Regions from separate parts of the Homo sapiens genome. Here region 2 is linked to region 1. Evidence: fine-mapped expression QTL. A gene starts in region 1. The other region holds a variant in brackets. All regions are shown on one strand. Distances are from middle to middle.

Region 1 (5,376 bases):
CCATCTCACACCAGTTAGAATGGCGATCATTAAAAAGTCAGGAAACAACAGGTGCTGGAGAGGATGTGGAGAAATAGGAACACTTTTACACTGTTGGTGGGACTGTAAACTAGTTCAACCATTATGGAAGACAATGTGGTGATTCCTCAAGGATCTAGAACTAGAAATACCATTTGACCCAGCCATCCCATTACTGGGTATATACCCAAAGGATTATAAACCATGCTGCTATAAAGACACATGCACACGTATGTTTATTATGGCACTATTCACAATAGCAAAGACTTGGAACCAACCCAAGTGTCCATCAATGATAGACTGGATTAAGAAAATGTGGCACATATACACCATGGAATACTATGCAGCCATAAAAAGGGATGAGTTCATGTCCTTTGTAGGGACATGGATGAAGCTGGAAACCATCATTCTCAGCAAACTATCGTAAGAACAAAAAACCAAACACCGCATGTTCTCACTCATAGGTGGGAACTGAACAATGAGAACACTTGGACACAGGAAGGGGAACATCACACACCAGGGCCTGTTGTGGGGTGGGGGGAGGGGGGAGGGAAAGCATTAGGAGATATACCTAATGTAAATGACGAGTTAATGGGTGCAGCACACCAACATGGCACATGTATACATATGTAACAAACCTGCATGTTGTGCACAGGTACCCTAGAACTTAAAGTATAATAATAAAAAATAAAAAATAAAAAGAGACTCCATCTCAAAAAAAAAAAGCAATGTGGCAATGTCTAGTAAAATTGAGAATGTACCCAGTAATTTTTCTAGTTAAATAACCTACAGAAATTCTAAGGCAGGTGCCAAAGGAGACACCTAAAAGCTTTTCACTACAGCAATGTTTGTAATAGCAAAAAATACTATAAATAATTTAAATGTGCATCTCTGTAAGAATGAATAAATATACTAAGTAAAATGGATGCATAAAATAGACTATTATAAAAATTAATGAGAATAAACTAAATTCTTATATTGGCATGAATAGTTCTAAAAAACAATGTAAGCAAAATGCAAAATAAAATGCAGGAATTTTATTAATGTAAAAATTTAAAATACTACTGTATATTGTTCAAGGATATCTATTAATATATTTGAATGTAAAAGTATAAAAAAAAGTAGTTGTCCATGGAGAAGTAAAAGGATGTAAGACAGGAAATGAACAAAGCAGACAGATAAACAAAACAAAGAGGGAAAAAGAGACCAGCAAGATTTTCCCTGACATTAAATACTAAAATAAAATACTTATGTCTGTATGTGGCTCAATATTGGCAGGGTAAAGTTTAAAGCTTTTTATTCTCAAGTTGATTGTAATCGTTGAGAGAACAAAGGAACACACTGGTGAGTTTAAAGCTTGGGCCTCTACCTGGCATGAGTAGCTGCTTTCCGCACCAAATCCAGAACATCTGTACTGGGGGTGTCTGACACTTGCGTGCTCTCTCTCATTCTGACCCCTTCTTTCCCCTTACATATCATTTTTTTTCCTTTCTTCCTTCCCTTGGGTCTCTTACCACAAAAGCTCCGCACCAGACTGGGGTTCTGACACTAACTTGGCATGTGATTCTGGGCTGCCACCTCACCATTCTGAACCTCAGTGTTGTCCCCTCTAAACCTGGGAGAACACCCATCCTGCCTGGAGGCAAGTATGGCTCGCTGTCAGTTCTCCTTTCTGCTGTTTCTCTATTCCAGCATCATCTCCAGCAGACTACAGGCATACAGAGCCTCCGCCTTAATCTCACCTCTGCTCTTTGTCTCTGCTTCAGCTCCTGCTGGGCTGATTTCTGTTTGGCCTTCTCAACTCTGCTGACAGATTCTTTAACTTTGGTTTTTTCTTTACGTGCAGGTGGATCCATGGCTTGACTTCTGGATATTTCTTAGGAGGCTCTGATCTGGGTGGTACAGAAAGAGGCAGATCTTCAAAACAAAACAAAACAAAAAATACCCTGCCAGTTACTCCTCTAATCCTTTAGCTCCGCCCCATCCTTTGCCAGGTGAGGCAGAGTGGTCTGGTGGCAAGGGCGCTGGATGTGGGGGAGTAGGAACCGAGTCCCAAGGCCACAACCTCGCTGGGTGTCCCTGGGCAAGTCTCCTCCCCACTTTGAGCCTTAGTTTTCTGTCTGCAAAATGGGTTAAGTGTTTTCCTGGCCTCCCTCCAGGAGCTGCTGTGTGCGGGTGAAATGCAAAGACCCCTGTGAAAGCGTTGCCCACTGTGCGGCGTGCGGCACCCAGCGCGGAACCGTCCTAATGGGACGCTGAGACCCAGAGGGCGCCCAGGGTTTTCCCACTGCGGCCGGCCTAACTCCGCCGCAGCAGCCGCTCCTGGGGCCAGGGGGCCGGGCCCCATAGCCAGCCGGGCCCGCCCCCCACCGCCCGGCCCCCCGACCCCGCCCCGGCCCGCCCGGCCCCAGGGGACGGCCCCCGCCTCCTGCCCTCTTCCCTCTCCTGGAGGAAAATGGCGGTCGCTGGAGCCGCCGACCAAGAGGCTTGGGAGTCTGTACCTTTCCCGACCGGGCCACTGGAAGTTGGAGCCTCCGCCGAGTCGCAGACAACGCCTCCGGGAGGGTAATCCTCGCCTTCCCCCGACCACTGGACCCAGCGCTGCCTGCCCACCGCCCCTCGTCCTGGGCGGGGCCGCGCGCCGGGGGGAGGGGCGCAGGGCCGAGCGCCAGGAGGCTTCCGCCCGCAGGAGCGGCCGCGCGTGCGCAGAGAGGATGGCTGGAAACCCGCGTAGAGGGCGGGGCGGGGCAAGCCGGTGCCGGGGCGGGGCAGGGGCGGAGCCACACCGGGGTGGGTGGTGGTTACGGCTAACCAAAGCTTTTTCCCGTTATATTTTCTGCAACAGCTACTAGGTTTTAGAGGGTGAGATCCGAATCCTGGAATTGGAATTGCTCAGAATTCGAATTCCGAGGCTCAATTTCTTAATTCGAAAAGTGGGGATTGATGATTGCCACCTTCTTCATTCATGAGTTTATTGGGAGGATCAAGTGAGATCCCGTTTGCCACAGTGCTTTGAAAAAGGAAATCTTGACAGAAGTACCAATAGCCAGTATAAATACAGAGAACATTCACGTTCAACTGATTACCGAGGAGATGTAAATTAAAATAGCTGGCTGTAATTTTCCAGGTATTACATTAGCAAGGATTGACAAAAATGATAATAGCTACCTTACATTTGGGCTTACTATATTCCAGGCACTGTTCTTACAGCTTCACATTTATTAACTAATTCCTCATAATAAGTGTGTATAATGTATACGTGTATATTATTATCCCCATTTACACATAAGGGAACAGAAGCATTGAAAAGTTAAGTGAGTTGTCCCGGGTCACACAGCTTCTAAGTGCTGGAGCAAATATTTCAGCCAGGATTCATAGGACAATGGCCTTATCCAAAGTAAAACCCTGTTTGGGTCCACTATTTGTTCCTCTATCAAACTGGCAAGAATTGAAACAACTGATAGATGCTAAGCAAGCAATGAACTCAGCCCAGATGGACACACGCTTCCAGTCAAACTGTAAATCGTTAACAGCCTTTCTGGAGGTCAGTTTAGTACTAGGTATCAAAAGCCTTAAAAGTGAGCACAATGCCCCAAAAAGACAAATACTGCATGTTTCCATTCATATGAAGTATCTAAAGCAATCAAAGTCTAAGAAACAGAAAGTAGAATGGTGACTGCCAGTGGCTAGGAGAGAGGGAAAAGAGGAATTGTTTAAAGGGTATAGAATTTTAGGTTTGTAAGGTGAAAAAGTTCTAGAGATCTACTGCACAATGTTTATTTTTTATTTATTTAATTTTTAAAAAATAGATGGGGTCTTGCTCTGTCACCCAGGCTGGAGTGCAGTGGTGTGATCATAACTCACTGTAACCTGGGCTCAAGCAATCCTCCCACCTCAGCCTCCAAAGTATCTGGGACTACAGGCACACACCATCATGCCTGGCTAATTTTTTAAAATTTTTTTGTAGAGATGGAGTCTCACTGTGTTTCCCAGGGTGATCTGGAAATCCTGGGCTCAAGTGATCCTCCTGCCTCAGTCTCCCAGAGTGCTGGGATTACAGATGTGAGCAATTGCGCCCAGCTTTTCCAAAATTTCTACAGTAAACGTTTATACTTTAGCAATCAGAGGAAAGTACATTAAATGTCTTTTTAAAAACCCTATACAAATGCTGATTCGATTATTATTAATAAAAGTAACCAAGTCAGAGTCTATTTCAGAAATCTTGATGTAGTACTGGTATTTTACATTTGTGTCACATGGTATGGTTTATAACGTTCATATAAGCTATGAACTAGATTACAGCTGAAGACACGGCAGGACCTTTAGAAGCCAGCTAAAAACAAACCAGCTATAGGGAATGGAGGAGTGGAAAAGCCACATGGAAGACTGGAAAAGTAGTGGTGCCACTGAGCCACTGTTGAAAGTGGAGAAGGTGTGATGAGTTGGTTTGGGAAACGGTGAGGAAGAGGATAAGTTAGGAGCGTGTGTGTGTGTGTGTGTGTGTGTGTGTGTGTGTGTGCGCGCGCGCAAGAGAGGGACCGAGAGAGAGAAAGAGCTAGATTACGCTTCAAGTGGCAATAGGCAAGAAGAATTGTCCAGTGAGCAATTAGAAGATTTCAGAAAAGAACGGAACTGGAGATACCAGTTTGGGATTCTACATTCTTTATTGGGAAGGTGAAGGTTGGAGCCAGGAGGGAGTGAATGTTGAGGCTGAACACTGTCAAAGTCCCCTCTCTATTCTTTCCATGAGTTTATGCTTTGTCTGTCTCTTTTGTGTCTACCAGTGGACTCTTGGCCAGGCTGCAGAATTTCCTGGTTTGTTGAATGACTAGCAAGAGTTTATAGTAATATAACTAGAATATTTTTACAGTTGAGGTATATACTACACTAAGATTATATTCACTTTATTGAATAATATTTTTTCTAGAGTCAAAAAATTATCTATTTTTATTTGCTTAATGATCTATGCATCCCTTGTTTATTTTTTATTTTCAGAGGTGGGCTCAAGTGATCCTCCCGCTTCAGCCCCTCAGTGGCTGGTACTACAGATGTGAACCAGGTCATTTACCAGTGTCTTTTTTTTTTTTCTTGGCAGCATCCCTCCTTAGACTCATCCTCTCTTTGCTCCAAACTCCTCTGCTTAGCCTTGCTTCACAGCTCTTGTCCTAGGATTAGGGACCTAACCACATTCTGGGGATTCTCTTCTTGTTTCTCCTGTGCCAAATCCCCTGCTCTCTGGATCTTATGTTTTTCCATTCTTGGTTTATTCTCTCATTTTGGAGGAGTATGTTCTCCACTAACTCCCCAGAAGGGGTTCATGGAAGCTAAATTTTTGAGTCCTTGCTTGTCTAAAAATGG
Region 2 (5,376 bases), 48 kb before region 1:
CCCCGGCCGCCTGGTTCCAGGCAGGTCTGCACCTTGAAGTAGGCGACCTGCAGGTAGTTGTAGGGGCTCCGCTTGCGGAACTCCAGCTCCATCTCTTCGCTGAGCGAGTGGGCGGCCGGCGGCCCGAGGCAGCGGCGCAGGCAGGCAGCGCGACGCAGAAGGCCCCCGAAGAAGCTCAGGTCGCGCAGGGCGGCGGCGCCCGAGGCCTGGGCCGGGCTGGGGGACCAGTCGGGGTCCAGCTCCCACGGGAAGTCGGCGGCACACTGGGTGCGGCAGCGCAGGCGAAGGGCGCGGAGGGCTGCCCGGGAGCGCAGCGCCCGTTCCATGCTCAGGACCACCCCGGGCCAGTCCCCGCGCGCGTAGGCTGCGGTCCCCTCGGCGAAGAGCAGATCAGGCGTCACCATGCCCCATCCTGCCTCGGACTCGACCTCGGCTTGGGAGGCAGCGGCCACGACAGCCAGCAGTGTGGTCAGCAGCTTCAACGCGCGTACCGCCATCGCTCCCTCAGACCTAACGGAACCGCCAGCCACCCGCCACCAAGGCCGGAGTCCTACCCCCGGCGAAGGCCCGCCCCCGGGCGAAGCCCCACCTTCCAAGCCGGGCGGCGCATGCCCACGAGGCTTGCACCGCCTCTTTTCCTTTCAGTCAGCCCGGATCCCCCCACCGGCCCTCAGCGAATCCCGGCGCGTCAGCCGGAGCCCCGCCTCCGAGCTCAGGCCTTGCTCAGTCGAACTGACGCCCAGTAGACAAGAAAGACGGAAGCTCCGCCCACGCGCCTTTATGCGCAGGCTCTTCCTACTCGCACAGCCCAGGGAGTGGGGAGGATAAGGCGCTGTCATGGAGGACGCCGCCGCGCCGGGGCGGACCGAGGGGGTCCTTGAAAGGCAAGGAGCGCCGCCAGCTGCAGGCCAGGGAGGTATGCGGGGCGGGAGTCAGCAGGGGGAAGTCAGCTCCCGCGAGGCAGCCGGTCTCGGGGCTCCGCGGGAGGCCGACGGCGGGAGCTCACGGCTTGTGTTCCTGGGTGTGTGTCGCAGGAGCCCTGGTGGAGCTCACCCCGACCCCCGGCGGCCTGGCCCTGGTGAGCCCCTACCACACCCACCGGGCCGGGGACCCCTTAGACCTCGTGGCGCTCGCAGAGCAGGTGCAGAAGGTGAGGAGGCGCGGCCGGGGCAGCGAATAACCATCTTCGTTCACGTTGTACTCTGCGTCTTTCGGCTCAGACCTCACTACCACCTATGGTGGGGGTGGCATTTGCTCTTGTCTCCATTTTACAGACGAGTAAAGCCGACTGTCATTGTGAGTCGGTGGCCTGATTCGAATGACCTTCTGGGACCAAAGGTTCCTCTAACTGCAACTTGAGTGCCCATAATCTTCCTTCGTGGGAAGGTTTACACAACACTTTAGTGTTCATTATTTCATTTGCACCTTAGGACAGCCTTGTGAGGTAGGCAGTACAGAGTTATTCTTCCCATTTGACACAAAGAAAAGTTCTTCGGGAAGTTTCAAGGTCCGCTTATTTTAAGCTGCTTCCCATAAGATCTTTGTTACCTGAGAGTTTAAACATCTTCTAGCAGGGCAAGGACTCCAAGTTTAGTCCTCATTAAACACAGTATTCCCAAGCCCAGTGTTTATATATGGATGGCCAAAATAAGTCAAATAAGGAGGAAATGTGAAATAATGGAAAAAACACTGGAAGTTTGGACACATGAGTATTAATCCCACTTTTGATACTAACTTGCAGTGCGACTTAAGGCAGATTACTTCTCTCTGGACCTCAACTATTTTATCTGTGAAGTGAAAGGTTTGAAGTAGTAGAGCTCCAAGATCTAAAGTTTTGTCATTATTCAATGAAAAACCAGATTCCTTCTTATCTCTTATCAAGACTTCCAGTTGTACACCCTCTTCAGTGTCCACAGATGGAGGGTCCTGCTGTTTTAAAGATTATCATGGCCCCTTATCCCTGTATACACTATCAGATTTGGCCTTGATTATGTTCCAGGGTCTTTGCTTTGCCCAAAATTATTTAATGTGCTCAAATTCCCTCACATCTCTTTTTTTTTCAATGATCCTAGAAATCCTTCGAATCCTTTTTTTTTT[A/T]AAATTAAGAAAAATTCAGATACGCAGAAAGCTCCTTTAATTCAAAACTTGGCTTTCTTCTTTTTGAAGAGCTGGGGAGCAAAGTGCAACTTTTATTTATTAAGAGAATATGCATCTAGTTAATCAGATTACTCTTATTGGGAGGGAGGTTGGCAGGGACAGAATCTTGTGCACACAACGTATTCATGTGCTATTGAATGACTATCGTGTTTATTACGATGGCCTGAACAGATGGAAGAAAGAACACAGTTTTTGTCTTTCATCCTATAATCTTATGAAATACAGAGGATGCATTATTATGCTGCCTCTGTTTCCCCAATACAATCTGTATTTGAGAAGCTGAAGAAAAAAAAAACTTTAGAGACAAACAAATTGAATCAAACATATTAACTATCTAAAATGTACTTTTTGGCCAGGTGCCGTGGCTCACACTTGTAATCCCAGCACTTTGGGAGGCCAAGGTGGGTGGATCATTTGAAGTCAGGAGTTCGAGACCAGTCTGGCCAACATGGTGAAACCCCGTCTCTACTAAAAGGTGTGGTGACTCATGCCTGTAGTCTCAGCTACTCGGGAGGCTGAGGCATGAGAATCGCTTGAGCCCAGGAGACAGAGGTTGCAGTGAGCCGAGATCGCACCACTGTACTCCAGAATTGGTGACAGAGTGAGACTCTTAAAAAAAAACAAAAAAATGAGGCTGGGTGTGGTGGCTCACGCCTGTAATCTTAGCACTTTGGGAGGCTAAGGCGGGAGGATTGCCTGAGCTCAGGAGTTGGAGACCAACCTGGGCGACATGTGAAACCCTGTCTCTACTAAAATACAAAAAATTAGCCGGGCATGGTGGTGTGTGCCTGTAGTCCGAAGCTACTCTGGAGGCTGAGGCGGGAGAACTGCTTGAACCTGGGAGGCAGAGGTTGCAGTGAGCTGAGATCACACCACTGCACTCCAGCCTGGGTGACAGAGCAAGTCTAAAAAGAAAAAAAAATGGTGGTGGGCTGGGTGCAGTGGCTCACGCTTGTAATCCGAGCACTTTGGGAGGCCAAGGCGGGTGGATCACGAGATCAGGAATTCAAGACCAGCCTGGCCAACATAGTGAAACCCTGTCTCTACTAAAAATACAAAAAATTAGCCGGGCATGGTGGCAGACGCCCGTAATTCCAGCTACTCATGAGGCTGAGGCCGGAGAATCACTTGAACCTGGGAGGCAGATGTTGCAGTGAGTGGAGATTGTGCCACTTCACTCCAGCCTGGGTGACAAAGTAAGACTCCGTCTCAAAAAAAAAAGTACTTTTTTAGCAAGACTGACCCAGGTATTGGTGTGTGTTCAGAAAGCTCAGGAGGCCTGGTATTAAGGCATGAATTTTGGAATCTGACCTGTGTTCAGATCCTTTGCTGTTTATTATCTGTGAAACCTTGGACAGGTTGCCTCATGTCTGTGAGTCTTAATTGCTAAAATGAGAAAGTGAGGTTATCATCTCCAGCGTCATAAAGGTGTTGTGAGAAGTAAATGAGATGAATGTAAAGGGCCTCAGAGTAGTTGAGGCCAGGGTTAGTGCTTAGTAGTTGTAGGTACTCTTCCCTTCCTTTCTTTTTTATGAGGCTCTTTTGTTTTTAAGTTGTTCGTGAAATATTTTGCATTTTTTTTGTTTGTTTCTTTTTTCCTTTTTTTGGACCTCAGACTAATCCATATTTTGCATTTTATATTAACTCTTCAAAATATAAATTCAAATTTTGTTTATGAGATTTATTGCTAACACCTTAAGAAAAGGGAGGGTTATTATAAGGCCACCCCTAATCTGGAACTACCTTAGCTCTAGAAATACCTACTCTCTCCTTGGCCATATATGGCTCCTCCTTTCTTTCTTTCTTTTTTTTTTTTTTGAGATGGAGTTTCGCTCTTGTTGCCCAGGCTGGAGTGCAATGGCGCCATCTTGGCTCACAGCAACCTCTGCCTACCGAGTTCAAGCAATTCTCCTGCCTCAGCCTCCCAAGTAGCTGGGATTATAGACATGTGCCGCCATGCCTGGCTAATTTTGTATTTTTAGTAGAGACAGGGTTTCTCCATGTTGGTCAGGCTGGTCTCAAACGCCCGACCTCAGGTGATCCATCCGCTACGGCCTCCCAAAGTGCTGGGATTACAGGTGTGAGCCACCACACCTGGGCTTTCATTCTTGGAACAAAATGCAAATTCTTTTACCATGGGCTACAAGACTGCACAATCTGGTCTCTGCTCTCTTTTTAAACCCTGTTCTACACATTGCCCATCACTAACTACTCTTCAGCTGCACTGGCCTCAAATGCCTGCAAACTTTTTTTTTTCCAGCTTTTTTCATGGTCGGTCCTCTCCTTTCATTTAGACCCAAGTCAAATGTTATATCCTTGGTGAGGCCTTCTTGTCTGAAGAAGACCGTACCCTACCCCATCCAAATGACAGTATTATTAAATTGAATTCAAATACCTCTAGGCTACATATACTTTCCAATTCCCCACCACTCCCTATTATTAAACTTCATAAAAATGAAGTAGCTTTTTTACTTAACTCATTTGTTATCTTTAACCTGCTTCTACGACATAATTGTGGTTATTTCCTTCATAACAGTGCATTGTTATGAGTACATATAATATTAGCTTTAATCATCTTTACTTTTTGGTATCTATTACTCACTGGAGCTGTGCTTTAGGTAGCCACTAGCAACATTATGTCTGTTAAGCACTTGTGTTACGTTGTTAGTGTGGCTGAGGAACCGAATTTTGTATTTTATTTGATTTTAATTAATTTGAATTTAAAAAACCTGATAATTACTTCAATTATTGGAACTCAAGTATATTGGAACAATTTGAGTATGTGAATCAACTTTTTCACATATAAATTTTATTAAGTTTAAATACAGATGAAGTATTTCTGATGAAAATTTAGCATCCAAATTGAGATGTGCTGTGAGTACAAAATAAACACTATATTTTGAAGGCTTAATATCAAATGCAAAATATGGATTAGACTGAGAAGGACCAAAAAAAGAAACAAAAACAAACAAAAAATGCAAAATATTTCATTAACAACTTACAAATAGTGATTACATGTTAAAATGAAAATGTTTTTGATATATTAGGTTAAGTAAAATGTATTAGCTGAGCACGGTGGCTCATGCCTGTAATCCCAGTACTTTGGGAGGCTGAGGCAGGCGTATCACTTGAGGCCAGGAGTTCGAGGCCAGCCTGGCAAACATGGCAAAACCCCATCTCTACTAAAAATACAAAAATTAGCGGGGCATGGTGACGCAT

Which allele goes with the higher level. Alleles are on the strand shown, and positions count from the first base shown. SD is a standard deviation of normalised expression in the study named.
For the expression in fibroblasts of the gene that starts at base 2,727 in region 1, allele A in region 2 goes with a lower level than allele T (small effect, 0.32 SD a copy in GTEx).

Evidence for each region. PIP is the estimated chance that this variant, and not a neighbour inherited with it, causes the effect.
Region 2: its variant is fine-mapped to the expression of SVBP in fibroblasts (GTEx, PIP 0.96).

What each region holds. Positions count from the first base shown.
Region 1 is chr1:42,814,671-42,820,046 of GRCh38, forward strand. SVBP (small vasohibin binding protein) reads right to left here and starts at 2,727. Exons shown (of 3, transcript NM_199342.4): 1 at 2,520-2,727; 2 at 1,761-1,910. The coding sequence starts at 1,874. ERMAP (erythroblast membrane associated protein (Scianna blood group)) reads left to right here and starts at 2,452. Exons shown (of 12, transcript NM_001017922.2): 1 at 2,452-2,583. RefSeq lists silencers at 1,601-1,670, 2,231-2,430, 2,581-2,870.
Region 2 is chr1:42,766,475-42,771,850 of GRCh38, forward strand. It overlaps P3H1 (prolyl 3-hydroxylase 1), which reads right to left and starts at 554. Exons shown (of 15, transcript NM_022356.4): 1 at 33-554. The coding sequence starts at 497. It overlaps C1orf50 (chromosome 1 open reading frame 50), which reads left to right and starts at 775. Exons shown (of 5, transcript NM_024097.4): 1 at 775-916; 2 at 1,035-1,150. The coding sequence starts at 838. RefSeq lists silencers at 193-302, 923-1,062. The variant A/T (reference allele first, on the strand shown) is at 2,098.